7 linked regions of the Homo sapiens genome follow. The protein of the gene in region 3 interacts with the protein of the main gene of each other region in a pairwise test. Each region holds a gene or a part of one and is shown on either strand. Other genes may lie near its edges.

Region 1 (3,889 bases), on a different chromosome or scaffold from region 3:
CTCGGCTCCCGTGTCGTGCCTCCTCTGTGGGAAACCCACGCTGCCCTGATGCAGAGCAGAGGGTTGGCGTGGCGTTGTCTGGATTTGAGAGGACCTGGCCAAGCTGACCAAGATCACCTGTCATGATGACAGGATGACAGAAGGCTGTCTCCGAGCCAGAGCCAGCCCCAGAACTGGGGTGGCCCCGAGGCAGCTGGTGTTTGCAGCATCTCTGCTGATCTGTCTCTCTTCTCTTGAGAACTGCGATCGATACCCTGTACAGCCTCTTCCCAAACCCTGGCTGGACCCTGACTCCATCCATCACTTTGCCTTCTTTTTCTAATGAATACTTTCTCTGCTGGAAGGGCTGCTTCTGAAGCCTCGGCATAGGGAGATTTCTCATCAGAGCTGTCATCTTCCTTGCTAAGGTCTGGAAAGTACCTTAATCATCCATTTCTTTCATCTTCTCAGCTGATAACATTTCTTCCCACCCTCACACAATCAGACAAAAGTCTGCCTACTCCATTTCCCGCCCCCCCCCCGCCGCCATCGCATTAAAAAAGTAATACTAATCCTTTTTCCTCCTCAACCTCTCACACCTCACCCCCGACGCTTGACCCTTTAGCTAAGGGGAAAACAAGTTGGGGAGCAAGACCTCAGATTTTCTTCTCCTTTTCATCCAGGGAAGGTGTAAGTACTTCAAGAATAATCTCTGAGGGCAGGGAATCTCAACCTGAGACCCACAGATGATCCCTAGGGCATCCAGGAATCAGGTAAAAATTAAATGTTCAATTGTACCCAAGGTATTTTTCTAGGGGATGTAAATGTAGTGTGTGACTCTCTGAAGAGGGATAGAGGTGCAAGTTTGTTCAACAAGAAGCTGATAGTTAAGAAAGTGAAGCATATGGCCCTCAACTCCTGACAGGAAGCCTGTTTGGGTCACAGATGGTAGGAGAACAAATGGAAACAGCTTTGTGGAAGCCACTATCTCTCACCTTTTGAGTTTGCTCCAGAATTGCTAATGAGTCCCAGTTACTTTGGTCTAATTGGGTGCCACCAAAAGAGGAGATGTCACTAGACCAGAGCCTGCTAGGAATAACTGCTCTCCTCTCTGCACCCCAAGCAACAGAGTCTGACTTTGTTGCTTGGGGTGCACAGTGGAAAGCAGTAGAATGATATCTTGGTGAAAGTCCTGATATTGGTTCAAGAACTTAAAGCAAGGGAGAGGAAGAAAAAATAAATCCCCGGAAGGACTCCAGTCTCAGATCCTTCATGGCAAGTACTTGCAGCACTGTTTATTCAAATATATAATAACAAGCACCAGAAAACAACATGCAACATTCTCCCCCCACCCCTGATCTGCAATCCCAGAAGTAGGAGGCTCATGACTATGATAGTGAAGGAAACTCATGTCCAGGAAAGGTCCTAGGTGGGCACCCTGGTGCTGGGTTAGAGTCTAGTGGGACAAAGGGCAAGTACCCTGCCCATTAGCCTCCTACAGCAGCTGGAGAAACCAGACACCTTCTTCTACCTCAGGCCCCACTTTGCAAAGCAGTGATGCCAGCCCTGGTTGGAGAGAACATGAGTCCTATGAGGCACTTGGCCCTGCCCAGCCCTCTGGAGGTAATGAGGTGAAGTAGCCTTTCCTCTTAGGGTGGCCATAGAGAGTGAGGCCGTAGCCTAAATCAAGGCTCTCCTGATGGAGAACAAGAGAGCCTCTTGAGAAGAAAGAGAACGAGGCTTCCTTGCTCTAAAGAGAGTCCTGGGCTGGGAGTCCTTGGCAGGAGTGAATATAATCTCCCCCCACCCCCTGCCCGCAACTGCTTTCCCTAGCTGAAGGCCCAGTTGCTAACTTCAGCCCCCAAATGAGAACACTACCCAGCACATTTCAAATAAATTATAAATACAGACACAGAATCCAAACAAAGATCCAGTAGAAGCTGCTCACAGACCCCCACAGAGGCCGGCTTGAAGAAAAATGAAGGTCACCCCTTTGTTCTCTGTGTCTCTGGAGCTGTAGGCAAAACTGTCCCCCCTTGTCCTTGAGTAACCATGGGGACAGCTCATGACAGAGAGTTTCAGACTTAAAAACCCTCTCACCCCATCTCCTTTCTTTCCTCCTCAAATCTCTTCCCCAAAATCTTAAACAAACAAACAAAAACTAATTCTTTCACTGAGGGACTCAAGCATTTGGGGATGTAAATCTCACCCTTTCCCCATCGGGAGGAAATGACTGGCCTGAAGTCAAAAGTCCTGACTCCTAGGTACCCCAGTAATGCACATGTTACTATGGATGGTGTTTAGAGAGGTGAGGAGGTTGAAGGGGGTTGACTCAGTCCTGAGGAGAGATTGGCACAGGGCACATTCACCTTTAGGATGCTTAGTGGGCCAATTGGCACTGGATTGGAAAGTGGTCGGATTCTTCCCTCTTCTTCCTTCCCTGGGAAGCCCTATGGCCAGGGCAGATTGAGCTGGGTAGGAAGCAAATGATCCTTACCCAGTTAACACTGATTCTCAGCCTTGGGGCCCAGAGAGGGACTGAAGGAGGTATCAGGAAGAGGATATACACTAAAGACAAATATGGAACTGGGTCCCAAAGTGAAGAAGCACCAATAGCATCGGCCTGCCCTGGACTTGAGAGGGGATAGAGACTGGGAGAAATAAGGACACAGGGGAGAAATGGGACAGCAAGGGAAGAGGGAACATCCTGTTTTCAAGATGAGAAGGAGAAATATGAAAGAAGGACTAGAGAAGGAGCAGGGGAAAAAACTGAGCAGGGAATAAGGAAAAAATGGGCCCATCCATCCTGGGGCTCTGGGGCAACTTAGCCTCATGATGGTCCTTTGGCCCTTCCTAAGCCCCTGTCTGGCCCCACAGGAATAAAAGGAAGGCCTGGACAGACTTCAAAAAGGATCTCAAATGCCTCAGATGCACGATGCTGGGGAAGGGAGATGGACAGAGAAGTAAGGGGATTAGGAGGCAGGTCCTGACTCCACATTTTTGAGTCCCAAGTGTGAGACCAAGAAGGAGGACAGGGAGGAAGATAGGGCGTTTCTAAAGTAGAGTTTAGAGTGTTGGTGGAAAGTGCCCCAGCCTGGTGGGTGGGAGGATTGAGGGGATAGAAGAAATTGATTCTGCCAGCAAGCTTACTGGCTTTACTTTCTTGAAGCTGCAACTCAGTTGCAATTTATCTTGCTCCCAGCTGAGTCCAGGAAGGCCTCATCAGGACCCTCTGAAGGGCTGTTTTCTAGGCTGGTGGACCTCTCTGGTTCACACATGGTGGATTCTGTGGGCAGGCAGAGGCCAGAGAAGACAGTGGAAGGCACACTGAGTCATGGGATGACTGGAGATCAGACGCAGGGACTAGATGACAGCCACTGAGGAGGGGTCGCCAAACCACTATTGGGGCCTCCACACAAGGGACCAGAGGGGAAGGCTACTAGCTGATTTCCCTTCCCCCTAATATTGTTGAAGCCGGACAGGTTGACAGAAAGGTGGCTGCTAGGAACCAGTCTCAGAGCACTGGTTTCCTGCCCCCAACCCTCACCTGCAGCAGAGGCTGGTTCTCAGAGACTGTAAGGGTACAAGTAAGACCCCAAGTAAGATACCTGGGTCCAGGCACTGCACAAGAAGCACTGAGCTCCTGCCATTCATGGCTCCAGCAAGAAGGAGGATAGGAAGCCACTGAGAGGGCTGCCCAGGTTTCCAACAGCTGATGCCTGCCCATCGTCTCAAAGCTCAAAGACCAGAATGATGGGGGAGGGGAATTGGAGGAGGAGGAAGAGAAAGGTCCTGGAAGCCGGAGGTGGTTGAAGAGGTGCTGTCCAGTTCGGGAATAGCCAGGTGGGGGGCTGCTTACTGCTTCTCCACTGCTCCCTGCTCAGCTGCACTCTCCTGGCTGGGACCCTGG
Region 2 (4,344 bases), on a different chromosome or scaffold from region 3:
TGGGTAGTCAGGAAGGGAACCTGGTGGGAGGGTGTTAGCACCTGGGTCAGGGTGAACCTGAGTGAGGCTTGAATCAGGGAACTTTGAGATTTCCCAGGACTAACATCCTCCTCTCCCTTTGGCCAGTGAGACCTCTTTATCTGTGCTCCTGCTAGTGGCTTATATCTCTTGGTGCCTTCACCAGCCTCCCTGCCCTTTCCCACTGGTTGCTTTTCTTTTCTTTCTTTTTTTTTTTTGAGACTGAGTTTCACTCTTGTCACTCAGACTGGAGTGCAATGGTGCGATCTCGGCTCACTACAACCTCCGCCTCCCGGGTTCAAGAGATTCTCCTGCTTCAACCTCCCAAGTAGCTGGGACTACAGGTGTGCGCTATTATGCCCGGCTAATTTTTGTATTTTTAGTAGAGATGGGGTTTCACCATGTTGACCAGGCAGGTCTCGAACTCCTGACCTCAGGCGATCCGCCCACCTCGGCCTCCCAAAGTGCTGGAATTACAGGCATGAGCCACCGTGTCAGGCCCCGCACCTGGCCTTTTCTTTTGTGCTTCGAGGGCTTTAAACTGGAGATTTTGCCTGATTCTAAGGGGCAGGAGTGGAGTCGTGGAGAGGGAGATAGAAGAATAGATTCGTAAGAGATGTTTTTCACTTGTCTCTTGGAGGTGAGTTTTTAATGAAAATGTCTAGAAACCTTAAAACCTTAAACACTGATGCTGTGAACCTGACAAAGTGCTTGGGAAAGCTGTCCCCTCTCCCTCCCAATTCAGGGATGGCTTCTCTTCTAAGCTCTGGTCTTGAGCTCTCTTGCCCTCCTCCTTAATCCTACAGAGACTTGTTGATTATCATGGTATCCTTTCCGTCCTTCTTCCCTTCTCAGTGGTATAATTTTCCCCATTTGACAGGTGAGACCACTGGTGAAGTGAGGTTGAGGTTGCTGGCTACCAGGCTGCTGATTATAATCAGCACCTATCCCTGTGGTGGACTGCCTGCCCTTCCTGCTGTGTTCTGCCATTTGCAGCCCAAGTCAGTGGACTTCAGCCAGAGTGCCAGAGAGAGCTCTGACACCACCTTCACTGTTCCCTCTTTTCTCTCAGCAGACTCTAAGCCGTATTTCCTCTTCCTTTGGGAAGTGGTTAAGACTATGGGCTTTGGAACTAGACCAACTTGGATTTTACTCCTGCCATATCTTTCCCTGGCTTTATGGCCATGGAAAATATTGTGGGTTGAATTGTGTTTCCTTAAAAAAGATATGTTGAAGTCCTAACCCCAGGTACCTCAGATTGTGACCTTGTTTGGAAATGGGGTCATTGCAGGTGTAATTAGTGAAGATGAGGTCATACAGGAGTAGGGTGGGCCCCTAATCCAACATGGCTGGTGTCCTTCAAGACGATGACCATGTGAAGACACAGAGAGAGCACACCTTGTAAAGATGGCAGCGGAGAGTGGAGATTGGATGCCTCTACGAGCCAACGAACTCCAAGGATTGCTGGCTGTCACCAGAAGCCAGGAGAGAGGCATGGAACAGATTTCCTCACCACTCGTAGAAGAAGGAGCCAACCCTGCCAACACCTCAATTTCAGACTTCTAGCCTCCAGAACTGTGAGAGAAGACATTTCCGTTGTTTTAAGCTGTTCGGTTTGTGGTACTTGCTACAGTAGTCCTAGGAACACAGAGAGCAGAAAGTTTATTGAGCTTTCTGAGCTTCGGTGTCCTCATCTGTAAAATTGCTGTAACACACTCTATGTCATGTGGTTTTTGGTGACAATTAAGTGACAAGCAGCTTCTGCTTTCTTATTCTAGTGTAGAAAAGCAAGGCTGACATAGCTGACTTGTCTTTGCTCTCTTTGCTTCTCCCTTTAGCTGAGTGAGGAGTTGGTCCAGGTGGTTGAGAACTCAGAGCTGGCAGACGAGCAGGACAAGGAGACGGTCAGAGTCCAAGGTCCGGGTATCTTACCAGGTGAGTGCGTTTGGTGCTTTGCTGTGCTGTTGCTGCAGCTGGACACCCCAGTCTAGGCGCCTTGCCAACTGTGGGAGAGGAGGAGCCCCCTTCCCTGCACCCTGGTGTCAGGTCTCAAGTATTGCCCTAGTTTTAAAGCCATACATATTTAACCAGCCTTGGAACAGAGGATATGTCTAGGCTGGTATCTGCTCTTAACTCCAATTTGAGCCACTTCCTGAGGTCAGGTCATTGCATACAATGGCAAATGCTTTGGATCTCTGCTCTTCTGTTCCTCTTTCCCTGGAAACTGCTAGCAGGTGAGCCTCTAATATCCGGGTCAAAGAAGATCTAATAGGCCCCCTCTTTCAGATACTAGGCCTGTCCAGTAATGCTGCTCAGTTGGGTAAGCAGGGTCCCATCAGTCAGTTGGCATCTTATGGAGCCCTACGGCAATGTTTGACACTGCTGACTACTTCTTCCGCCCGGATACACGCTGCTCCCTTAGCTTCTGTGATGCAGCATTTCTCAGGCCACTCCTTCCAGGCTCCATTGCGGTCACTCTCCAGCTCTTGGGCATGAAATGTTGGTTGCAGGCCCCTTTCTCTCACTCTCATAGACAGTTCTACCCAGGCCTGCTCCCTTGCTTCAGCCACTGCTTGCTCACACGTGACTCCCATGTTTACATCTCTAGCCCAGAGGTTACCTACAAACCGCAAATTTATATATCCTGTATTTCCAACTGCCCATGTCATAGTTCTGCTTGGATCTCCCAAAGCTTCCCTCAACTCCACATGTCCAAAATTGACCTCATGATCATCTCAGTCCCAGCTTGGTCCTCTCCCAGTATTTCCTGTTTGCAGGAATGGTACTACCACTTAACGCAGTTGAACTTCAGAGTAGTTCTCCATTCCTTCCTTCCTCTCATCCCCTTTTTCTCTGGCCCTCAGCCATGCTGATCTTTTTTTATTTTAGGCCTCATTCCCTCTCACCACAGGGCCTTTTTGTTGTTTTATTTCTCTGCCTGGAATTCACTTTCCTTCTTCACATAGTTAATGCCTAATCATTCTTCAGCTTTCAGCTCACTCATTTTTTTCCACAGAGCCTTCTCTAACCTTCTGGCCAGATTACCTCCCACCCTCCAGCACCGTCTCATAGTCCACGCGCCTCTCCTTTCCGGCTATTGCTGTTGGAATGGTGCGTTTGTTTGTCTGACTAATGTCTGTCTGTTCTACTACAGCAGTCCCCAACTTTTTGGCACCAGGGACCGGTTTGTGGAAGACAATTTTTCCACAGATGGAGGTTGGGGGATGGTTTCAAGATGAAACTGTTCCACCTCAGATTATCAGACATAGTTAGATTTTCATAAGGAGCACACAACCTAGATCCCTTGTATGTGCAGCTTACAATAGGATTTGCACTCCTATGAGAATCTAATGCTGCAGCTGATCTGACAGGAGGTGGAGCTCAGGTGGTAATGCTCACTCACTGCTCACCTCCTACTGTATTGGCCCAGTTCCTAACAGGCCATGGACCCGTATTGGTCTGTGGCCTGGGGGTTGGGGACCCCTGTTCTACTAGAATGAAACTCCCTGAGGGCAGAGACCAGTCTGTTTTGCTCACCAGCCTAGCCTTGACCACGCCATAAAGATTTGTTGAGTGAATGAATGAAGCCCCAGCCTGACTTCAACTTCTTGGATGGATCCCATCTGTTTGTGGGAGAGGGGAACAAGACAGGAACTAATGTGGTTCTGCCTGCTCCTTACAGAAGACTGCATGGAAGGGACCGGGCACGGTGGCTCATGCCTGTAATGCCAGCACTTTGGGAGGCTGAGGCAGGTGGATCACCTGAGGTCAGGAGTTCAAGACCAGCCTGGCCAACATGGTGAAACCCTGTCTCTACTAAAAAATACAAAAATTAGCCAGGTGTGGTGGCACATGCCTGTAATCTCAGCTACTTGGGAGGCTGAGGCAGGAGAATCGCTTGAACCCAGGAGGCGGAGGTTACAGTGAGACGAGATCATGCCACTGCACTCTAGCCTGGGTGACAAGAGTGAGACTCTGCCTCAAAAAAAAAAATAAAATAAAGTAAAAAAAGACTGCCTGGAAGGAAGGAGGCTGGAAGGGCAGCTAACATTTCCTGACTGCTTCTCCTGTGCCAGGATCTGTCGTACCCCATTTGCCCCATTTAATTCTCACATCAACCCTGTGAAGTGGTTATCCCCCTTTTACAGATGAGGCCCCCAACCTCAGGGAGGTTGAGTAAAGCATGGGGAGGTCATATAGCTGGTAAACACAGACTGAGTCAAACTCTGCCCAACCCTAAACTCTCTCTACTACACCAGTGGTGTTTTCTTTTTTTTTTTTTTTTTGAGATGGAGTCTCACTCTGTCACCCAGGCTGGAGTGCAGT
Region 3 (3,500 bases):
AGACGGGGCTTCACCATGTTGGCCAGGCTGGTCTTGAACTCTTGACCTCAGGTGATCTGCCTGTCTCTGCCTCCCAAAGTGCTGGGATTACAGGCATGAGCCACCGTGCCTGGCCACTCTTCATGTTTTGAGACTTGTCTTCCTTCCTTGTAAACTGTTGTGGAGTAACCCGTAGTGTCCCGGCAGCCTCTGCTCATTTAGCTGTTTCTCTACTGATGGAATTGTTTTATTCTTTGAAAAAAAAATTACAGAGACATAATACAAAGCACTCAAATAGTAGAAAGGGTAATCAAGAAAATGTAATCTCTCTCATCCCTGACTGACCACGCCCCACAGCTGCCCTCACCCCAGGCAACCACATGCCTTGTGTCTCATTCCAGGGTGAGTGGATGCATATTTCTACATAAAACCCACATCCTCACTTAACCACAGATAGGTGCTGTCTGGGCATGTGCCAAGCCATGCTTTTCCCCAGGGCAATACACCTAGGGATATTCTGTATCAGTGCACAGCAAGCTGTGTCCATCTTTTTCATACCTTTATTACCTAATTTCTTTTTCTTTATTTTTATTTTGTTTGTTTGAGGCAGAGTCTTGCTCTGTCACCCAGGCTGGAGTGCAGTGACGTGACCTCAGCTCACTGCAACCTCTGCCTCCCAAGTTCAAGTGATTCTCCTGCCTCAGCCTCTTAAGTAGCTGGGATTACAGGCACGCACCACCATGGCCTGACTAATTTTTGTATTTTTAGTGGAGACAGGGTTTCACCATGTTGATCAGGCTGGTCTCAAACTCCTGACCTCAGGTGATCCGCCCGCCTCGGCCTCCCAGAGTGCTGGGATTACAGGCGTGAGCCACCGCACCCGGCCCCTAATTTCTTTAATAGGTAATGTATTTACAATGCTCAAGAATAAAATAGACAGGGAAGGAGTACAGTGAAAAATCTCTGTTCCCTTTTGGTTAAAGTTGACTCCTTCATGCCCACTCTCAGTTTTCTATATCCCATTTTAAGACTTTCTTTAAGGAGACCTATGCAAATGTGGCTCTAGATTCCTCTCTCTCCCAGTTTATATAGTCTCCCCAAGATATATAGTCTAGCCACATCCTTCTGCACTTTTTCTTTTACACTTAAAAAATGAATCTTGGGGGTCCTTTTGTCTCAGTGTGTGGAGTGCAATTGCTTCTTTCTTTATGGCTTCTATAGTATTCCACCATGCAGCTGTGGTGTGACTGTGTGGTCAGTCCCTTTGTTGACAGACACTTCGGGTTTTCTATTCCTTTGCTGTTGCGCACCCTGCTGCAAGAAATGCCACCAAGTGCATCTGTACGATATGTTTCCAGGAGTGGGACTACTGGGTGGGAGGATACATGCATTTGGGATTGTGATGTAGATTGCCAAATGCCTTCCGGAGAGGTCACACCCTTCCTGCCTGCAACAGCATGCCTCCTGGAAGGTTCCTGTTCCCACAGCCTCCCAACATGGTGATTTAACACACTTCTGGATGTGCCCCAATCGAATAGACCAAAATGATAGGTCAATGTAGTGTTATTTTCATTTCTCTCTCTCTCTTTTTTTTTTTTTTTTGAGACAGAGTCTCACTCTGTCACCCAGCCTGGAGTGTAGTGGCATGATCTTGACTCACTGCAACCTCTGCCTCCTGGGTTCAAGCAATTCTCTGGCCTTAGACTCCCGAGTAGCTGGGATTACAGGCGCCCACCACCAAGCCCGGCTAATTTTTGTATTTTTAGTAGAGACGGGGTTTGGCCATGTTGGCCAAGCTGGTCTTGAACTCCTGACCTCAGGTGATCTGCCTGCTTCAGCCTTCCAAAGTGCTGGGATTATAGGCATGAGCCATGATGCCCAGCTAATTTTTATATTTTTAGTAGAGACAGGGTTTCACCATGTCGGCCAGACTGGCCTCGAACTCCTGACCTCAGATGATCTGCCTGCCTCAGCCTTCCAAAGTGCTGGGATTACAGGCATGAGCCACCAAACCTAGCCTATTTTCAGTCTCTTATCAGTGAGGTTGACCTTTTAAAAAATGTGTTTGGGTTGTTTGTTGGTTTTTGAGACAGGATCTCACTCTGTCACCCAGGCTGGAGTGGAGTGGCACGATCAGGAATCACTGCAACCTCCGCCTCCAGGGCTCAAGCCATCCTACCACCTCAGCCTGCCGAGTAGCTGGGACTACAGGTGCTCCTCACCATGCCCAGCTAATTTTTGGTAGAGACATGGTCTCACTATATTGCCCAGGCTGGTCTCGAACTCCTGGGCTCAAGCAGTACTCCTGCCTCGGCCTCCCAAAGTGCTGAAATTATAAATGCAAGGCGCGGCGCCAGGATCTAAAAGATGTTTAAGAGCCGTTTGTATTTCCTTGTCTGTTTGTATTCTTTGCTCATTCTACTGAGTGTGGTTGGTCTTTGCCTTAATAACTGCTAGGAGTTCTGGATTATTTGCAAATATTTCTTTCCTAATTTGTTTGTTTTGCTGGGTTTTTTTCCCCCTCTCATGGTGTTTTTTTTTTTTTTTTTTTTGCCTTGCAAAATTTTGTTGTAGTGTTTTTTTTTTTTTTGCTGAATTTCTTTATTTCATTCCTCTTCCTTTTTTCTTTCTGGGTTCTGGAAATTGAATCATAGTTCAGTCTTTTTCACTCCAGTTGTATCTGTCTGGAATGTATTAACATTGTTACATATTTGTTGTATTTAATTACCTTGTTAGCTTCTATTGTGACAGATAATACAGGTTTCCCACTTCCTAGTGATTTAAGTTTCCTTTTTAAAATTAGCTTATATATGTGATATATACAAGTTCATCAATGGGGACTAGTTTAGATAAATTATGATACATCTGTACAATGGTGCATGATGCAGTGAGTAAAAAGATATCCCCCCACCCCTCAAAGAAGACAATGCAACAGCTCTGTGTATAAGGATGGACAATCTCCAGGCTACCTATTTAAGTGAAAAAAGCAAGGTGCAAAATTGTAGCATGCTATCATTTGTGTGGAAGAAGTACACAGATACAAGACACACTTATCTGAAATGCATGTGTGTGTGTGTGTGTGTGTGTGTGTGTGTGTGTGAAGTCCCTGGAGACACACATAAGAAACCACTCTTGGCCGGGCGTGGTGGCTCACGCCTGAAACCCAGCACTTTGGGAGGCCGAGGCGGGCGGATCACGAGGTCAGGAGATTGAGACCATCCTGGCTAACACGGTGAAACCCCGTCTCTACTAAAAATACAAAAAATTAGCCGGGCATGGTGGCGGGCGCCTGTAGTCCCAGCTACTCGGGAGGCTGAGGCAGGAGAATGGTGTGAACCCGGGAGGCGGAGCTTGCAGTGAGACAAGATCGCATCACTGCACTCCAGCCTGGGTGACAGAGCAAGACTCCATCTCAAAAAAATAAACAATAAACTACTCTTGATCCAGGCACAGTGGCTCACACCTGTAATCCCAGCATTTTGGGAGGCCGAGGCAGGCAGATCGCCTGAGGTCAGGAGCTC
Region 4 (4,125 bases), on a different chromosome or scaffold from region 3:
TTTAATGGGTACACAGTTTCAGTTTGGGAAGATGAAAAAGTTAACGGAGATAGTTGATGGTGATAATTACAAAACAATTTGAATGTATTTAATACCACCAAACTGCATACTTAAAAAGATTAAAATGGTAAATTTTATGTTTAGCATATTTTACACAATAAAAAAAAAACTTTAAAAAATTTTCAAGCGTCTTGCCTATTATCCAGTCTTCCTTTTGCTAAATGAATTTGAATCAATTTATACTACTGTATGTTTTTAAAAAGCAAAAAAGTAAAATAATCCATGTAAAATGTATTTTCCTCTAGTGAGTACTAAGCTCATGTAAAAACCAAGTTCAAGATTTCCTGCTTCTCTTTTAAAACCGAGAAATATTAATATAAAAAAATGAATCTTCTCAGAAAGAAACCTGAGGCTAAATCACTCTACTTACAAATTATTTCACTAATGTCTAGTGTGTTTAAGTGTCAAAACAAATACATTTCTGAATTTCCAAACTTTTTATTAAGTCTTTCTCCAGAGGGCCAATTCACTAGTGAGCCTCCCTGATGTCTAACTGGCATATTAGGTAATAGACAGTATAATAGATGATTAAATAGCACCGAAAATATCATTACCCATTCTCCTGTGTAAACCAGTTTTTAAGTTTTAATTCACTAATGCTTTCCTGCCTTTCAACTCTAAACATGAACAGTTGTAAAACGTTCATTACATTTCACAACCTCTGAAAGGAAAATATATTTATTACATTATAGAATTCGATGACTTGTCCCAAGACTTCTAGTGAGTCAGCTTTAAGTATGGGAAAATTCAAGTGGTGCCACCACCCAAACTGGGGCTCACATCTTTGTGGACCTAACTGATAAAGAAGAAATACATTTCATGCAAGTCAAGACTTACTTAAGAAATAACTACAACTGCACCATTTATAAACATATATAAGATTTTTTTAACATTATCGCAGAAAGTCTGAGAAACAAGATTTTTAAAAATAATTCTGTCACATATAAATATACAAAAATAGTGAGAGATCACCTTAACTTTTTCAAATTAAAAAAATCCTATGGTCAGCTGATTTTAAATCTCTTTGTCCATCTGTACTATTTTCTTTCATTTTGATATCAACCTGTTTCCCTAAACTAAAAAATAAAAATAAAAACTAGAAACAAAACAAAAAAAGACTATTAATTCAATTTAACCGGAATTGACTTGAGAAATTAAGGCTTTAATTGCTTTTGCTGTACTTTTCAAAGTAAAAATATATCTGGTGGGAAATATTCATCAACGTGTTTAGTGAAAGGCAATGTCAAAACTAACATCACCTAAAATCAAAATTTCACCTTGCCAGATTAAATAGCTACTTACTCATTTAAAAAGACCAATACATGAATGCATAGTGAAAAAGTATCCAGGTAACTTAATTTGCAGTTTTGTGTAGTTCTGCAGATCTGTATGTATAAAATAACAACTTTGCATGTGTTTTGAGATGTACACATTCTTGTAAAATTTCTAGAAGGATGTACAAAAGAGTTAAGTGACTACTTTTAAGGTACAGATCAGAGAAGGGAGTTGTTTATTTTTCACTTTATGCTCCGCTCCTTCGATAAAATGGTTGGAGTTTTATACACCGCCAACACAATGTTTTTTCAAAAGACTTCTAAATTTCACTTTGTAGTTTAAATCATACACTCTGTAAAAACTTAATTGTTTTTCATATTTATTTAATCTCCCAGATTACCTACTTTGTTGATCTCGTGGTTTGGGGGCTGAATACACTCTTCTCCAACTCCTCCAGAATCTTTTATTCTTATTCTAAAATTAAAATAATGTTATCTTTAATGTTTTCAATTTATTGTCTCATGTCATAAAAATGGTTGTTAGTTCACTGTCTTTGATATTTATCTTCACGATGCTTCATCGTGTTTTCAGAAAAGCCACAAACACCAACACAGTTGCTGGAGCTGCAGTAGAGGTATCGCTTGTTCCTTGAAAATCCTAACTCTGACCAAACAGACTGTCACAAAGGACCTCTTTTCACAACGTCAAGTAGCTTATGAGCTCTCGACAATATTACCCAACAATGGTGATGGCAGAAAAAACATTCACGGTCATTTTAGAGTGCTTAAAATTAACTGCAAGACAAAAGCATCCATGGGAGTAAAATACCTTGCCAGCTCTAAATTATAACTGATTTAGTATAGTTTGCTCATCTCTCTGTTCTGCCATTTCAATGCTGTGGGACCTGGGTCAGTATTACCAAATACCTCTCAAAAGTGAGGCTTCACATCTGTAAAATGGGTAACTGCACCTACCTCACTTAAGTCCTGCGAGCACCTCCCACAAAGGGGCTCAAAATGGCAGTACTCTTCCCTTCCCCTTCTCAAAGCTCCACTCTCCCAGGCCTCCCTCCTAACGCGCCTCCACCTCGGCACCCGCCCGTCCCCAACCCCGCGGGACTGACCGACTCGGCGGCGTCCGCTCAGCTCACCCTCGCCACCACAGAGGGCCTCCTCCCTCACAGGAACGCAGCTCCACAGTGGAGGGACGGGAAAGTGGCTCCCCAAACTCCAGTATGGGACAAGAGGGAATGAGTGCAGGTCCCAAGCCACTCCCTCCATCGTCGCGCCCCCAGGACTCCCCGCCCAACACACTAGGCACACCAGACTGTGCTACAGGAAAAGAAAAAGGACTCAGAACCACCTTCTCCGCATCCGTAAAGGTCCTTAGACTCACCGCGGGGAGGAAGCGGACCAGGCAACTCCACAGCACGGAAACACAGCGCCACGAGCTCCAGGCGGATGCTGAGAGCCGCCCCGAGTCCCCGCCCTCCTCTGCCCCGAAGGGCTTCAGGTGCCCAGACCGGGCGGGGCCTCGCGGAGCCTCGCAGCGCAGGCGCAGTCTGCAGGCAACATTCAACTGCAAGGCATCGGCCAATGGGAACTATTGCTGGGCTCGTTCGAAAGTAAACGGTGGACGGCGCGGCCCGAGGCAGGTGGCGGGAGTCAGTTTAAGGCTGGCGCCCAGCTTTCCGCGCCTGCGTGCTAGGCGCAGGCCGCCTCTCGGAAGCTTGGCCTCGCAGGAGCGGCTCTCTATCCTGTGGGGAGCTTCGGCCAGTGGGCCTCGTGAGCTGGGGTCCCGCCTGGGGAATCCGCATGGCACCGGTGGTCTGGGGGAGAGGCTGGGCCTGGCGCGGGACGAGGCGAAGCGCCGGTGGCCGACGGCTTCTGAGGAATTATCTTTTACTTGGCGCCACACGGGGCGGGGCCTCCTGCTATGCTGTGGAGCGCAGTGTCTTCCATCGTTGCCTCACAGACCCGCTGCTCCGGGAAGTCGCCACACATTCTCAGGGAACACCCACATCTGTCGCCTGCGCCCTCCGCCGCTCAGCTGTTTGCTTTTGTTTACGCATTCCGGAGACCTGACCCACCGGAGCACTGGGCTGAGCACAGGAGAAGGGGCTTTGGAGCGCTCTTTGTACTCAACTCCAAGAGCGAGTGGGAAACTCAGGACTGGGTTGGGTAGATCCCTGCGTCTCTCCCTAGCCTTCGTCCTCTTCCCCCGTTTTTCCACTTTATGAAAGTATTGCCTAGAGATGAGGGCTGTCCAACTCAACACTTCCAACTTCAAGTTCCTACTTCACCTCTAACTCCCTAGAGTTAGAAAACAACGTACAGCTTAGAGGTTCCTTTCCCTTTTTTTCTTGAGAAACTTTATTCAGCTTTATCTCAAGACATCACCGCTTCCCTCTCCTGTCAACCTTAAATAGTGAGGTTCTGGAAATATGATTAAGGATAGAGTTTATTCCAGCGTAAGGCTTGAGGGTAGCCACCCAGGAGACACCAGCTCCAAATGGGGTTAGCATTCCAAAGTGAAGAAGTTAGGGTTTCGCCTAGGTGGCCAGAGACAAATTTTAACAGGATTTCATTTCCCCTAAGAGACCAGTGCATACTTACAGCTATTTGGTAGGTTACAGATTACTACATTCCAAGAAAAAGTATTTTGTTACTCCATGAGGGGGGGTAGTGATCTCAGGGGGTTGTATCTCTGGTATGGTTTGGTCCTCCTATTTTAATTATTTATAGAAACAAAAGGCAGACGTTGCAGATGCCTGCTGCTTGACTCAGGCTG
Region 5 (4,344 bases), on a different chromosome or scaffold from region 3:
CCCTGGGTCCAGGCCAGGGGGACACATGGGTGGGGCACTTTCTGGCTCTTGGCGTTTGTGGGGGAGTCACGCAGGGAGTAGGGGAATATTCTTCTGTTCTGCAAGAAGGGGCTTGTAACCTCTTTTTATAGGACTGGAAAACCTTGACACCCCCTAGTCCATAATTTGCAGCAGGTACTCCCAGGGCCTACCTGGCTCACATTCCTCACCCCTACTGTTTCTCCACACGTTTGCAGTTCTGCAAGAAGGGAGGTGTTCTCTGTGTGTTTGGGGTCCAGCAACTGTGAGGGACCCAGCAGGCCGACACCTCCCATCTGTTTCTGTCCCCAGGATTCACGTGTTTTTCAAGGGCTAACGGAAATGCTGAGATCTAAAAGCATGTTTATTGCTGCCAAGGCCTGACGATGAAACTTCAAGTCAAATTAGTAAGCTTTATTAATGACTACAAAATTTAACATGATATTGAGAAGCTACAACTCAATTTTTTTTGTCATTGTATATAGATTTTGTAAAGTTAAAATCACAAGGACAAAGTAATTTATTTTGATGAAACTCAGAATTGTTAAAAATTCTTTCACTTTTTTAATAGCACAAATGTGCGGCCTGGTGACTGGCTTCCCTGGGGGATGGCTGCTCTGTGAGGGGCTGCCAGACCCTCTGCCTTGATTCCTGTTCTTGGCCAGCCCAGGGTGGTGAGCCTGTGGAAGGAGGAGGGTAGACTGTGCCTGCCCTGGGGGTGGGAGTGGGGAGGACAAAAGACAGTGTTCCAGCTGCCGTCTGGCGTTTGCTGATTCTGAGTCACTGGATGAGAGTGAGGTGTGTGTATTTGCCTGCTGAGTGGGTGTGAATCTCACCCCGGAACCCAGGCCTGCCCAAATACCCAGGAGCTCCAAGAGCAGCCTGTGTCAGGCTTTAATCTGTGGACACAAGCTCTGTGCTGTCATTCGCGTGTCATCGTTCGTGTCTTGGGCTATCCCTAGTATCCTCGCACACAAGCTCTGTGCTGTCATTCGCGTGTCATCGTTCGTGTCTTGGGCTATCCCTAGTATCCTCGCACACAAGCTCTGTGCTGTCATTCGCGTGTCATCGTTCGTGTCTTGGGCTATCCCTAGTATCCTCGCACACAAGCTCTGTGCTGTCATTCGCGTGTCATCGTTCGTGTCTTGGGCTATCCCTAGTATCCTCGCACACAAGCTCTGTGCTGTCATTCGCGTGTCATCGTTCGTGTCTTGGGCTATCCCTAGTATCCTCGCACACAAGCTCTGTGCTGTCATTCGCGTGTCATCGTTCGTGTCTTGGGCTATCCCTAGTATCCTCGCACACAAGCTCTGTGCTGTCATTCGCGTGTCATCGTTCGTGTCTTGGGCTATCCCTAGTATCCTCGCACACAAGCTCTGTGCTGTCATTCGCGTGTCATCGTTCGTGTCTTGGGCTATCCCTAGTATCCTCGCACACAAGCTCTGTGCTGTCATTCGCGTGTCATCGTTCGTGTCTTGGGCTATCCCTAGTATCCTTGCATATTGTTTCGCCTGCCCAGAACATGTGTGTTTGAGGTTGTCTTGCTCTCTCATATAACATGTGCCTCTTGCTATCTCTTGTGTAACATATATGTTCTATATAGGACCCTGATTCTACCTTCCCCCTTCTGGAGGGACCACCCCACCCTTGGCAGGTTGGGGGAGGGCAGGACTCTATTAGGGGTCTAGAGATACCTGGGCCATTTCATCTGCACCACCAGTTCTCCTCCGTGGGAGCGTTTCTGGGTCCAGGGCTGGGCCCCTGCCAACCCCAGGGAGCACTGTCAGTGTCACACCTGGCCAATCCCCTAGCCAGGTGACCAGGCCTGTCTTTCACTCTAAGACTGCGCCTGTGAGGGGCCAGGTGCCTGCCTCCTGCGGGGCTCTGCTGACCACACTCTCAGAGGATATCTGCTGAGACCAGAGCTCACAGGCCTAGCCTGGCAGCCGTATTACTGAATAATGGCCAAGTTAGGAAGGTTCCCAGGGCTGGGGGTCCTGGGGTAGGCTTCTTGGAGGAGGTAGGACTGGAGCTGGCTGGGGTGGGGCAGGATCCATGCAAGGGGCCAGAATCTGCACATGGGCCAGGATCTGTGCATTGAGGCCAGGATCTCTGCATGGGGGCAGGAGTCTCTGCGGGGAGGACTTTTAGGGGGTAACAGGATCTGTGCAGCGTGCAGGATCTTTGCAGTGGGGCCAGGATCTGTGCAGTGGGTAGGATCTACATTGGGAGTCAGTGTCTGTTCAAGGGAGTCGGGGGACAGGACCCGTCCAGGGAGGGCAGGATCTGTACAGAGGGACCAAGATCTACGCACGGGGATAGCATCTATGTGGGGTGGGGGCACGGTCTGTGCCAGGTTTTGGGGGCACTAGATCTTTGCAGGTGTGGCCAGGATCTGTGCAAGGGGTAGGATCTGTGCAGAGTGGCCAGGATCTGTGCAGAGTGGCCAGGATCTGTGCAGGGAGGCCAGGATCTGTGCAGAGTGGCCAGGATCTGTGCAGGGAGGCCAGGGTCTGTGCAGAGTGGCCAGGATCTGTGCAAGGGGTAGGATCTGTGCAGAGTGGCCAGGATCTGTGCAGGGAGGGTAGGATCTGTGCAGAGTGGCCAGGATCTGTGCAGAGTGGCCAGGATCTGTGCAGGGAGGGCAGGATCTGTGCAGGGAGGGCAGGGTCTGTGCAGAGTGGCCAGGGTCTGTGCAGAGTGGCCAGGGTCTGTGCAGAGTGGCCAGGATCTGTGCAAGGGGTAGGATCTGTGCAGAGTGGCCAGGGTCTTTGCAAGGGGGCAGGATCTTTGCAGGGGGGACAGGTTGTGTGCAGGCAGGTGCGCAGGGTCAATGCAGGGGGCAAGGTCTGTACCGTGGGCTAGGGGTCTATGTGGGTGGGGGGCAGGTTCTGCGCAGGGGGCCTAGGCTGTTCAGCATGCCAGGGTCTGTGCTGGGGGTTTGCCGCAGGCACAAGGGAGGGAGAAGCTGTCCTGGGTTCTATGGTTATGAACATGTCAGGGCAGAATGACACAGAACACACAAGAAGTTCAAGGGAACACATTATGAGATTGTGAACACCTGGACTGGGGAGGCCACGGCCTTCTGCTGGACCCTGAACGGCTCCCACAGAGGGAGTTGAGGTCTCTATTGACTCCTGAAAGGCCAGGCAAGGCAGAGCTGGGAGCTGCCTTGGTGGGGGTGCAGGTGGCTGGTTGCTATTGCTGGGTGAGAAGGCTTGGGGTCAAAAGAGGTGGGGGTCAGGGAGCTAGGTCTGACCTCGTCCCCCCTCCTTTCTTCCTGTCCTCCTATCCCCAGCGTGTTTTCCTCCCTCTTCTCCCATCCTTCCTTACCCATCCTCTCTCTTGATCTCTCCATACTTCCTCCCCACTCCTTTCCCTTTCCTCCTCCTCCCCATCCCAACCCCTCATCCTCCCTGTCTCTGCCTGTAGGGAGGAAGCTGTGGGGTGACCCAGGTGGAAGACAGACATGCGAAGGGAGAGGTGTCTGCAGTAGCAGGGATGAGGTGCTTGTGTCCCACACTCTGCCCTGGCCTCTGACACTGGTTCCTGGTCCGGGGACATCAGGTTGGGCTCCTTTGTCCTTCCCTTACGAGGTCTCTGCTCTGCCCACCCTCAGTGCCTACAGTGCCCAGGCTGGGTCCCAGGCTGGGAGGCAGGCTCAGGAAGCTCGGGTAGGAGGGTCTAGGGTCTCCTGCTCAGACGTTGGTGAGCCCAGCTGGGGCGGAGGGCTGCAGGAGTCCGAGCCTGCCTGGATTCCTGCCCCCTCTCGGCTCCTGAGGTCAGGGGGCTCACCCTCGAGCTTTGCCTGGAGAGCGTGTTTGTGCATGTGTGTGTCCTCTGGGTGTCGGAGGGCCTTGGTCTGTGTCTGCCTGTTCCCAAAGGTGTCCATGCACACTCTAGGTCTACCCATGTGCCTGCGTGCACGTTGGCGTCATCTTGCATGTGTGTGGCCCGTGTGTTTGTGCATCCCTGTGAGTGTCTGCATTTCTGAGTGTGTACCCATCCATGTCTCTGTGTGTTCACCCGTATGCCTGTCTGGGCATCTGTGTGTGTGTTTGCAGGAATGTGTGTCCCCATGTGTCCCTTGAGTGTCTCTGTTGACGTGCCCCGTGCCTTCACACGTGTCCCTGAGTCTTGGTTGCCGTGAAGATGCAGGGAGAAATCCTGGGGGACAGCGAGGGATGCTGGGTCCTGGGGCATCTGCCTGTTCCGTCCTCTCCTGATTTGCCAGGTATCCTAGCAACGCTGCTGCCAGTTGCCTAGCAACCAGGTCCCCACTCATGGAGAAGGTGCTCGGAGCAGGGTCTGAGCTGTGTGGGGAGA
Region 6 (4,344 bases), on a different chromosome or scaffold from region 3:
ACCAGGTGAAGAAGGAAGAAAAGGAGCTTCAGGTGCAAAGGCCCTGAAGTCAGCAGCAGGCTCAAGGATTGAAGTGGCTGGAGGGTTGGGGCAAGGGGTGGGAGAGGTCAGTGGGGCCAGACGGGGCCTTGGAGGCCCCAGTAAGGTTTGGGGCTTTGTCCAGAAGCACAGAGGAGGTGATGAGGGCTCAAGCATCTGTTCACGTTGAAGTCTCTCTGGCCAAATGTGGAGAAGCTATTAGGAGGATTCAAATTGAGGATGAAAAACTCACAGGTGACCAGGCCTCTCCTGGCTTGGAGACCTGGCTGGCTCCCTTGGTCCTTGATAAAGGTTAGAGTCCTGGCCTGGCACCCAGGGCCCAGGACAGTGTGCTCTGCCTGCCTGTCCGTGGCCCTCCACTCCCCTCTGCCTCCACACCCCATAGCCACCCTCTGTGCTGAAGCCACAACAGGCTCCCCTCCCTGAGGCACTGTGTACACGCTGTCCCTCCCCCAGCCACCTTCCCCTTCTCCATCCATCAGACTCCTTGGGCAGGGTGAGCCGCTCCTCCTCTGTCTCCCCATTTCTTTGTAGGTGTCGGATTGAGGCCCTTCTCTTTCCCAAGACAGTAATCCTAGAGAGTGCAGGGCAGGAAGTAGTCCCAAGAGTGAGGGAGGTTTTTAGCGACAGCACAAAACGGAAGGGACTGAGTGTCCACCAGGAGGAGTGTGGCTTAGTGGGCCTCCCAGAGCCTTGACTTTGCTGACGGGTTCAGTGTCTCCCGTTGGGAGGGGGCCCCAGAGACAGTTGGTGAAATGTGAGTGCATCCAGCCCTGGAGTTGGTCGGCCTTGTACACGAGGCTGGTGGTTTGCTTTCCCCGGATATGTCAGGTGGAGGCTGACTCCTGGGAGGACGGGGTGAAGGACGGGGTGCAGGACAGGTAGGATTTGACGGCTGGGTGGATGGGGCTCCACGGGAGAAGGCCATGTGTGGGCCTCAGAAGAAGCTGCAGAAGAGGCACTTGTCTCCCACTGTGGGCAAGAGCTCGCCCCTGAGACCTGGAGCTGGGGACTGAGGGCTGCGGGGGTGTCTTGCAGGTTTACTTCAAGGACACCCATCCCAAGTTTCCCGCTGGAGGGAAGATGTCTCAGTACCTGGAGAGCATGCAGATTGGAGACACCATTGAGTTCCGGGGCCCCAGTGGGCTGCTGGTCTACCAGGGCAAAGGTGATTCGGGTCGGAATCCCTTGGTTACACGGCAGGCTCAGAGAATTGGAGAGCTTGGGCGTGCTGGGTGCAGGGTGCAGGCCCCTGGCTCTGTGTGGATGGGTGACTCTCGTCAGGCCAGCTGTCCCTCTCTGGGAACTGAGTCTCCCTGGCTGTAGAGGGGGTAAGTTGCTGGCACAGGGGTTGCAGACAGGCCACTCCTGGGGGCCACGTCTCACCCACTGCCAGCCTCTATTTGGCTTTCTCAGCATCTGAAACAAGCAAGCAAGAGGACAGAGCTGAGCCTCCGGGTTCCCAGCCTCTCCACTGCTCCTGCACCTTCCTCATGGCTCGCGTTAGAATGGCAGCTGCCTCTACCTCGGACCTCACAGTGGGGGCAGGTTCTCCAGCCCCCTCTCCAGCCTCTCCAGCCACCACACATGGCATGTTTGATGGCCGGGCCTCACCCCTTCTCTCTCCCCAGGGAAGTTCGCCATCCGACCTGACAAAAAGTCCAACCCTATCATCAGGACAGTGAAGTCTGTGGGCATGATCGCGGGAGGGACAGGTACACGGAACCCCCCACTGAGGCGTCCGGCGGCTCATGTTAAGGGTGGGGTTGGGGTGTGGGTGAGGCGCAGGTTCTGAGTGCCTGGGAGCTACCAGAGGTCAGGGGCCCAGGCCCAGTGGTCCTGGCCCCTCCACCCCAGTACACCTGGGCGGGGCGGTGCCTGTGAACAGGCCTCGCTCAGCACGTGCGAGGCCCGGCCGGCTATTTTGCAGGCATCACCCCGATGCTGCAGGTGATCCGCGCCATCATGAAGGACCCTGATGACCACACTGTGTGCCACCTGCTCTTTGCCAACCAGGTCAGTGGGCATCCCCATGATGGGGAAACTCAGCTTACCCTGAGAGGGGACTTCGGGCCTGGTCAGGTGCTGTTCCAGGGGTCTGCACAGCTCTGCTGAGATTCTGGGGATGACCGGGATGGGGGGCCCTGAATGTTCTGTGCACTGGCGGCCTTGGCAGCAGCACGGCGGGCAGGCTTTGTGGTGCAGCGCCTGTGTCTGGCTGAGGGGGCTGCCTTGCGGGGAGCTCCCTGAGCACCCCCTCCCCTGGCTGCTTCCTCCAAAACTCAGAACTCCCTTCACCATGAGCACGGTGTGGAACCCACTGGTAGAGTGGGAAGAATGCTGGCCTGGACATGGAGGGGCCCATCTTACAAATGACCAGACATTTGCACGAAGCCCCTGAGCTACAGGGTGTCAGGGCAGGATTTGAATGTTGGTGTCTCTGGCTCCTGATTCATATCCTTGTCCACGAGCCCACTGCCTGCCTGCCCGCCCTGGCCTGCTGTGTGGTCTTGGACGAGCTACTTTCCCTCTCTGAGCTTCACTCCCTCATCTGTAGAATGAGCTGATGAAACTGGGTTGTTGCAAGGTCTTTTCAGGTTAGTGTTTTGTGACTGATGACGTAGATTTGGGGGAGAAGATGCTTGCCTGAGGTCCTTGGATGTGGGTCCTTGCCCCACCCTGCCTCCCCGCAGCTGCAGAAAACTGCCGCAAGGCCAACCAAGATGGCCTTGCCAGGCCCAGGGGAGAAAGAGCCAGAAATTCTAAGCTGGCTGGTGTGGAGGGAGAGAGGGCAGCAGTGAGACTTGGTGGTGCTGGTTCAGAGTCTGTGGAGGCCGTCAGACCGTCTGTCACCTGTACAGGCCATCTTTGCAGCTGGTAGCGAGGGCAGTGTGGTCGCCTCATCTCATACCTCCGAACACAGGCTCCGGGAGGGGCTTGACTGTGCATGTCTCGTGGGAAGTGCTGAAACCAGGATGCAAACCAGGGTTTTATTTATTTATTTATTTTGATACAAAGTCTCGCTCTTGTCCCTCAGGCTGGAGTGCAATGGCACAATCCTGGCTCACTGCAACCTCCGCCTCCCGGGTTCAAGTGATTCTCCTGCCTCAGCCTCCCGAGTAGCTGGGATTACAGGATGTGTGCCACCATGCCCGGCTAATTTTTATATTTTTAGTAGAGATGGGGTTTTACCATGTTGGCCAGGCTGGTCTCGAACTCCTGACCTCAGGTGATCCACCCGCCTCAGCCTCCCAAAGTGTTGGGATTACAGGCGTGAGCCACAGTACCCAGCCTATTTTTATTTTTAAAAAACTATTTTAGAAAACATCATTCTGTTTTACGTTTTTGCAAACCTTGGAATGTCTGGCTTCATAGGACAGCTAGATTCCTGTGTTTGTTTCTACATCCCATCTGTGTGATGTTGCCAGTCACGCAGCCTCTGGAAAGTGGCCCCATCTACTGAGAGAGGAAGAGTGAAAAATACCAGTGTCTCAGTATTATATGAAAACCATTTGGCCTCAGGGATCCTCTCCAGGGTCCCAACCCCAGGGGTCCCCATGCTACACTCCGAGAACCGTGCCAGTCGGGTCATTGCTGCTCGTTTCCTCTCCTACCTTCCTCCGTGACCTCAGTGCCTGGTTTTGAGCTGGGAGCCCCCTACCCTCGAGTAGCAGCCCCCCAAGGTTCCATCCCTCTGTTCATCTGTCAGGTGGGTCGCGGCGGTGGCCACCTCAAAGGATGGTGGTGAGGATTAAAGCATGAGACACACTTTAGCTCAGAGAGGAAGACATAACTTTTTTTAAAAAAATTGAGACGGAATTTCACTCTTATTGCCCAGGCTGGAGTGCAATGGCGTGAATCTCGGCTCACTGCAACCTCCGCCTCCCGGGTTCAAGCGATTGTCCTGCCTCAGCTACCTGAGTAGCTGCGATTACAGGTGCCCGCCACCACATCCAGCTAATTCTTTATATTTTTAGTAGAGACGGGGTTTCACCATGTTGGCCAGGCTGGTCTCGAACTCATGAGCTCAAGTGATCCACCCACCTCAGCCTCCCAAAGTGCTGAGATTACAGGCATGAGCCACCATGCCTGGCCTAAAAAGAAAGTTACACATAGTTAATAGAAAAAGAAAAGTGAAAAGATGCACACAAAAATCCTAACAGTCATTATTTCTGAAGGGTTTCAGGTACTTTTTCTTCCATATTTTCTGTATTTTTTTCCTTGAGTTCATCTAGCCCAAAGCCTGTCCCTGTCCCTGTCCTCACCCCATTAGGGCAGAAAGGGCCCTCAGCCTCCCACCCTCAG
Region 7 (4,344 bases), on a different chromosome or scaffold from region 3:
GGCAGGGCCTGTGAGCTGTGGTGTGGATGAGAAGGCTCTGCTGCAGTCTAATCTCAGTGGGCAGCCGTGAAGGAGTCTAGGCAGTATGCTAACATGATCAGGTTGTATGTTTTGCAAGACCTTTGAGCGCCGTGTGGAGAAGGACTGGGAGGGTGCAGGAATAAAGCAGGAGGCCAAATGGGGGCTGCTGCATACGTCCAGGAAAGAGATGATCGTGGCCGGGAATTAGGTGTTAAGAATGGAGAGAAATGGACAGCTTTCAACATGTATCTTGGAAGAAGAAAAGAAAACTTAGCTGTGGATTTCATGGGGGAGGGGTGGGCTTCTGCGTTAAGTGGTGGGGTGGGCGGTGGTGACATGTTTACTCATTTGAGGACAACCAAGGGAGGCACAAGTTGAAGGAGGGAAGATAAATAGACCAGTTTGGGATTGAAGATTAGCCCAGTTCAAGATGGCTGAGAGAAAACCAGGCAGATATGCCAAGTAAGCAGCTAGATATGAGTTTCAAAGCCCAAAGAGAGGCATGGACTAGAAAGAGAGACATCAGTGTCATCAGCATACAAGGGAGGTTTGAAGACGTGAGAGGCTGGGTGTGGTGGCTCATGCCTGTAATCTCAGCACTTTGGGAGGATCGCTTGAGGCCAGGAGTTCAAGACCAGCCTGAGCACATTGCAAAACCCCTGTCTCAACAACAAAAAAATTTAAACCAATTTTAAAAAATTAGCTGGGCATGGTGGCCAAGTGCCTGTAGTCCCAGCTACTCAGGAGACTGAGGTAGAAGGATCCCTTGAGCCCAGGAGTTCAAGGCTGCAGTGAGCTATGATTGTGCCATTGCACTCCAGCCTAGGCAACAGAGCGAGATCCCAGCTTTAAGACAAAATTAAAAACAAAAATAAACACATGGGAATACATGTGGAAATAGAATGAGAAGAGAAGTGAGCTTGGGCACAAGCCCTGTGCAATTCAAATCCCAAGAAGAAGAGAGAGAAGTAGGAGCTGGCAGAGGAGACAGAGAAAGGGCAGTTAGAGCAGTAGGAAGAAAATCAAGAACGTGTTGTGCACAAACCAAGAGAAAGGCTGTTTCAACACGGCAGTGGTCAGTTCTAACAGATGATGGTTCACACCTGCCCATTGGATCTGGTAACATGAAGGTCATTAATGGCCAAGGCAAGAGCATTGCCTGCAGAAGTGGACTGGACTGGGTTGGTTAAAGGCACTTTTTATTTTTTGTTTTGTTTTGTTTTTGGTTTTTGAGATGGAGTTTCACTCTTGTTGCCCAGGCTAGAGTGCAATGGCATGATCTTGGCTCACTGCAACCTCTGCCTCCCGGGTTCAAGCGATTCTCCTGCCTCAGCCTCCCAAGTAGCTGGGATTACAAGTGCCCGCCACCTCACCGGCTAATTTTTTGTATTTTTAGTAGAGACGGGGTTTCATCATGTTGGCCAGGCTGGTCTCGAACTCCTGACCTCAGGTGATGATCCACCCACCTCGGCGTCCCAAAGTGTTGGGATTATAGGTGTAAACCACCGTGCCTGCCCAAAAGGCACTGTTTGGAGCTCAAGACTAAGTTCAAATCCTGCTTCTGCCAGCTGCTGTGTATCCCCAGGCAAGTGACTTAACCTCTGTGTTTCAGTTTTGTTTGTGAAATGGTGCTAATAGTAGTACCTATGTCACAGGTAGTTATGAAAATTAAATGTGTTAATATACTTAAAGCATATATGTGCTTAGACTGTGCCTGGCCCAGTATGTTCATTACACTATCAATCACTATTGCTAATTTTAAAAAGTGAATGAGGCTCTTTCTCTCCTTATTTCCCTCCTTCCTCTTCCTGAACAATTCAGTCTTAAAGCCATTAGGTTTAACACAGAGAAGGCGGTGCCCAGAGTGGGGTGTTAGAACCCCAGCAGGGTGAGAAGGGTGTTCACACTAGGGGTGGCCTGGTACAAAGTATCATAGGCAAAGCATCCCCTGCAGGGTCAGGGATGGGGTGGTGAGGGGCCTGGCAGATACTGCCTTAAGAATAAAGAAACATTATCAGCTATGGGGCAAATTGACATCTTGCACCACCTACCAGGATGCAGTGAGAAAAATACAGCATCACATCTTGTGCTATTTCTGCCTAAGATGCATAACCTGAAGCTAGTCGTGAGGAAACATCCGACAAACCCAAATGGAGGGATGGCTACAGAATAAGTGGCCTGAATCTTCAAAAGTGTCAAGGTCATGCCAAGGAAAGACCAAGGAGCTGTTCCAGACAGAAGAGTTTAAAGAGACATGATCATTAAATACCACACAGAATGATGAACTGGATTATTTTGCTATAAATGATGCTACTGGAGTAACTGATGAAACTTAAATGGAGTCTGAGGGTTGGAGGATAGTCACATATCAATGTTAGTGTCCCAATTTTGATGGCTGTATGTTGGCTGTTTAGGAGAATTTTTTGTTTGCTTGTTTATTTCAATAGGTTTTTGGGGAACAGGTGGTTGGTTACATGAATAAGTTCTTTAGTGTGATTTCTGAGATTTTGGTGCACCCATCACCCGAGCAGTGTACATTGTACCCAATGTGTAGTCTTGTATCCTTCAGCCCCTCCTACCCTTTCCCATGAGTCCCCAAAGTCTATTGTATCATTCTTATGCCTTTGCATCCTCATTGCTTAGCTCCCACTTGTGAGTGAAAACATATGATGTTTGCTTTTCCATTCCGGAGTCACTTCACTTAGAATAATGATCTCCAATTCCATCCAGGTTGCTGCGAATGCCATTATTTCATTCCTTTTTGTGACTGAGTAGTAGTTCATTTTTTATATATATATATATATATATATATACACACACACACACACAAGTATACATATATACACACATATGTATACATATACACATATGTATACATATATACATATATGTATACATATGTGTGTATATGTGTATAGATACACACATATATACATACATGTGTGTATATATGTATACATATATATGTATATGTGTGTGTATATATATACACATCACAATTTATTTATACACTCATTGACTAATGGGCATTTGGGCTGGTTTCATATTTTTGCAATTCCAAACTGTGCTGCTAGAAACAGGCATGTGCAAGTATCTTTTCCGTATAATGATTTATTTTCCTCCGGGGAGATACCCAGTAGTGGGATTGCTGGATGAAATGGTAGTTCTACTTTTAGTTCTTTAAGGAATCTCCACACTGTTTTCCATAGTGGCTATTCTAGTTTACATTCCCACCAGCAGTGTAGAAGTGTTCCCTGTTCACCACATCCACGCCAACATTTATTTTTGTTTGTTTGTTTTTTGATTATGGCCATTCTTGCAGGAGTAAGGTGGTATCACATTGTGGTTTTGATTTGCACTTCCCTGATCATTAGTGATGTTGGGCATTTTTTCATGTTTGTTGGCTGTTTGTATATCTTCTTTTGAGAATTGTCTATTCATGTCCTTAGTGTCCAGGAGTTTTAAAAACCACACCAGAGCATTCAGGGGTGATGAGGTATGAGGTGGCAACTACTTTCAAATGGTTCAAGAAAAATATTCTTTGTACTGTACTTGCAAGTTTCCTGTACATGTGTGATTGCTTTAAGAAAAGGAAAAGGGGGAAAAAAGACGATGATGTTCTGAGACTCACTGCGTGCCTGAGGCCAGAAGGACTCATCTGCCTGCTCCATGAGATATTGTTTTCTTGGAGCTGTAGCTGATTTCTGGAGCAAGAAAGACATTGAACCTGGCTTTTCTTAAAGTGAGCCACAAAATGGGGAGTCAGGGAAGCCTGGCTTGTCCGTATCGGGTGGCCATGGGCTCTTCTTGGCAGCAACTCGGGAGTTGCAGAGCAAGGAGCTAAACAAGGGCACCAGTGCAGCCATCAGTGTACCTTGCCAGGGAGATCTAAAGCTGGTCTCTGAGGTCTGGGGAGGTCTCCACTTCTAGGTGGCGCCTGGAGAGCCGGGCCTCCCTGAAGTTACCTTGGCCTCCCAGCTTTTTTCGGCTGGGTGTAGGCGTGACAGCCCTGGCCGCCTCCAGCAGAGGGCGCGCTGCCCAATCTGTCTGGATCACGGGGACCGTGCCGGGCAGGCACACCTGTCACTCCTGGGGGCATCTGTATGACATCCCCACCCCTCCACTCTTTCTGCCATGGTTGCTGCCTGAAAAGAACTTTAGGAGTAACCTCTGGCTGGATAACTTGACTAAAATAGCTAAGCTACTCCAGAAGCAAGAGGCAAAGGCGGGTCTGAAGCTTGTGTGTGAGAAACAGAGTTTCTGACCCTTTTCTGTGGGGTTTCGTGTCCCACTGAGCACTGAGAGCACTAAGTGTGGCCCATA

Evidence for each region.
Region 1: the proteins of PLLP (region 3) and SYPL2 interact in binary tests that used the Homo sapiens proteins (3 or more experiments, as listed by UniProt).
Region 2: the proteins of PLLP (region 3) and PACC1 interact in binary tests that used the Homo sapiens proteins (3 or more experiments, as listed by UniProt).
Region 4: the proteins of PLLP (region 3) and TRIM59 interact in binary tests that used the Homo sapiens proteins (3 or more experiments, as listed by UniProt).
Region 5: the proteins of PLLP (region 3) and OPRL1 interact in a two-hybrid assay, tested with the Homo sapiens proteins (one large-scale study listed by BioGRID and IntAct).
Region 6: the proteins of PLLP (region 3) and CYB5R3 interact in a two-hybrid assay, tested with the Homo sapiens proteins (one large-scale study listed by BioGRID).
Region 7: the proteins of PLLP (region 3) and GOLT1A interact in binary tests that used the Homo sapiens proteins (3 or more experiments, as listed by UniProt).

Annotation. Positions count from the first base shown.
Region 1 is NC_000001.11:109,479,494-109,483,382, reverse strand, and holds the end of SYPL2 (synaptophysin-like protein 2), read right to left. Parts: coding exon 3,835-3,889; 3' UTR 3,266-3,834; coding exon of another isoform or gene 3,250-3,265; 3' UTR 1,249-3,249; downstream 1-1,248.
Region 2 is NC_000001.11:212,408,034-212,412,377, reverse strand, and holds part of PACC1 (proton-activated chloride channel), read left to right. Parts: intron 1-1,856; coding exon 1,857-1,953; intron 1,954-4,344. UniProt on the Homo sapiens protein: Chloride channel gated by pH that facilitates the entry of chloride ions into cells upon exposure to extracellular acidic pH. Involved in acidosis-induced cell death by mediating chloride influx and subsequent cell swelling.
Region 3 is NC_000016.10:57,274,673-57,278,172, reverse strand, and holds part of PLLP (plasmolipin), read left to right. Parts: intron 1-3,500. UniProt on the Homo sapiens protein: Main component of the myelin sheath that plays an important role in myelin membrane biogenesis and myelination. Plays an essential function in apical endocytosis. Regulates epithelial development through the regulation of apical endocytosis.
Region 4 is NC_000003.12:160,446,987-160,451,111, forward strand, and holds the start of TRIM59 (tripartite motif-containing protein 59), read right to left. Parts: upstream 2,801-4,125; 5' UTR 2,731-2,800; intron 1,810-2,730; 5' UTR 1,740-1,809; intron 1-1,739. UniProt on the Homo sapiens protein: E3 ubiquitin ligase involved in different processes such as development and immune response. Serves as a negative regulator for innate immune signaling pathways by suppressing RLR-induced activation of IRF3/7 and NF-kappa-B via interaction with adapter ECSIT.
Region 5 is NC_000020.11:64,086,175-64,090,518, forward strand, and holds part of OPRL1 (nociceptin receptor), read left to right. Parts: exon of another isoform or gene 1-404; coding exon of another isoform or gene 405-425; intron 426-3,450; exon of another isoform or gene 3,451-3,585; intron 3,586-4,344.
Region 6 is NC_000022.11:42,625,015-42,629,358, reverse strand, and holds part of CYB5R3 (NADH-cytochrome b5 reductase 3), read left to right. Parts: intron 1-1,077; coding exon 1,078-1,207; intron 1,208-1,670; coding exon 1,671-1,754; intron 1,755-1,969; coding exon 1,970-2,055; intron 2,056-4,344. UniProt on the Homo sapiens protein: Catalyzes the reduction of two molecules of cytochrome b5 using NADH as the electron donor.
Region 7 is NC_000001.11:204,206,967-204,211,310, reverse strand, and holds part of GOLT1A (vesicle transport protein GOT1A), read left to right. Parts: intron 1-4,344. UniProt on the Homo sapiens protein: May be involved in fusion of ER-derived transport vesicles with the Golgi complex.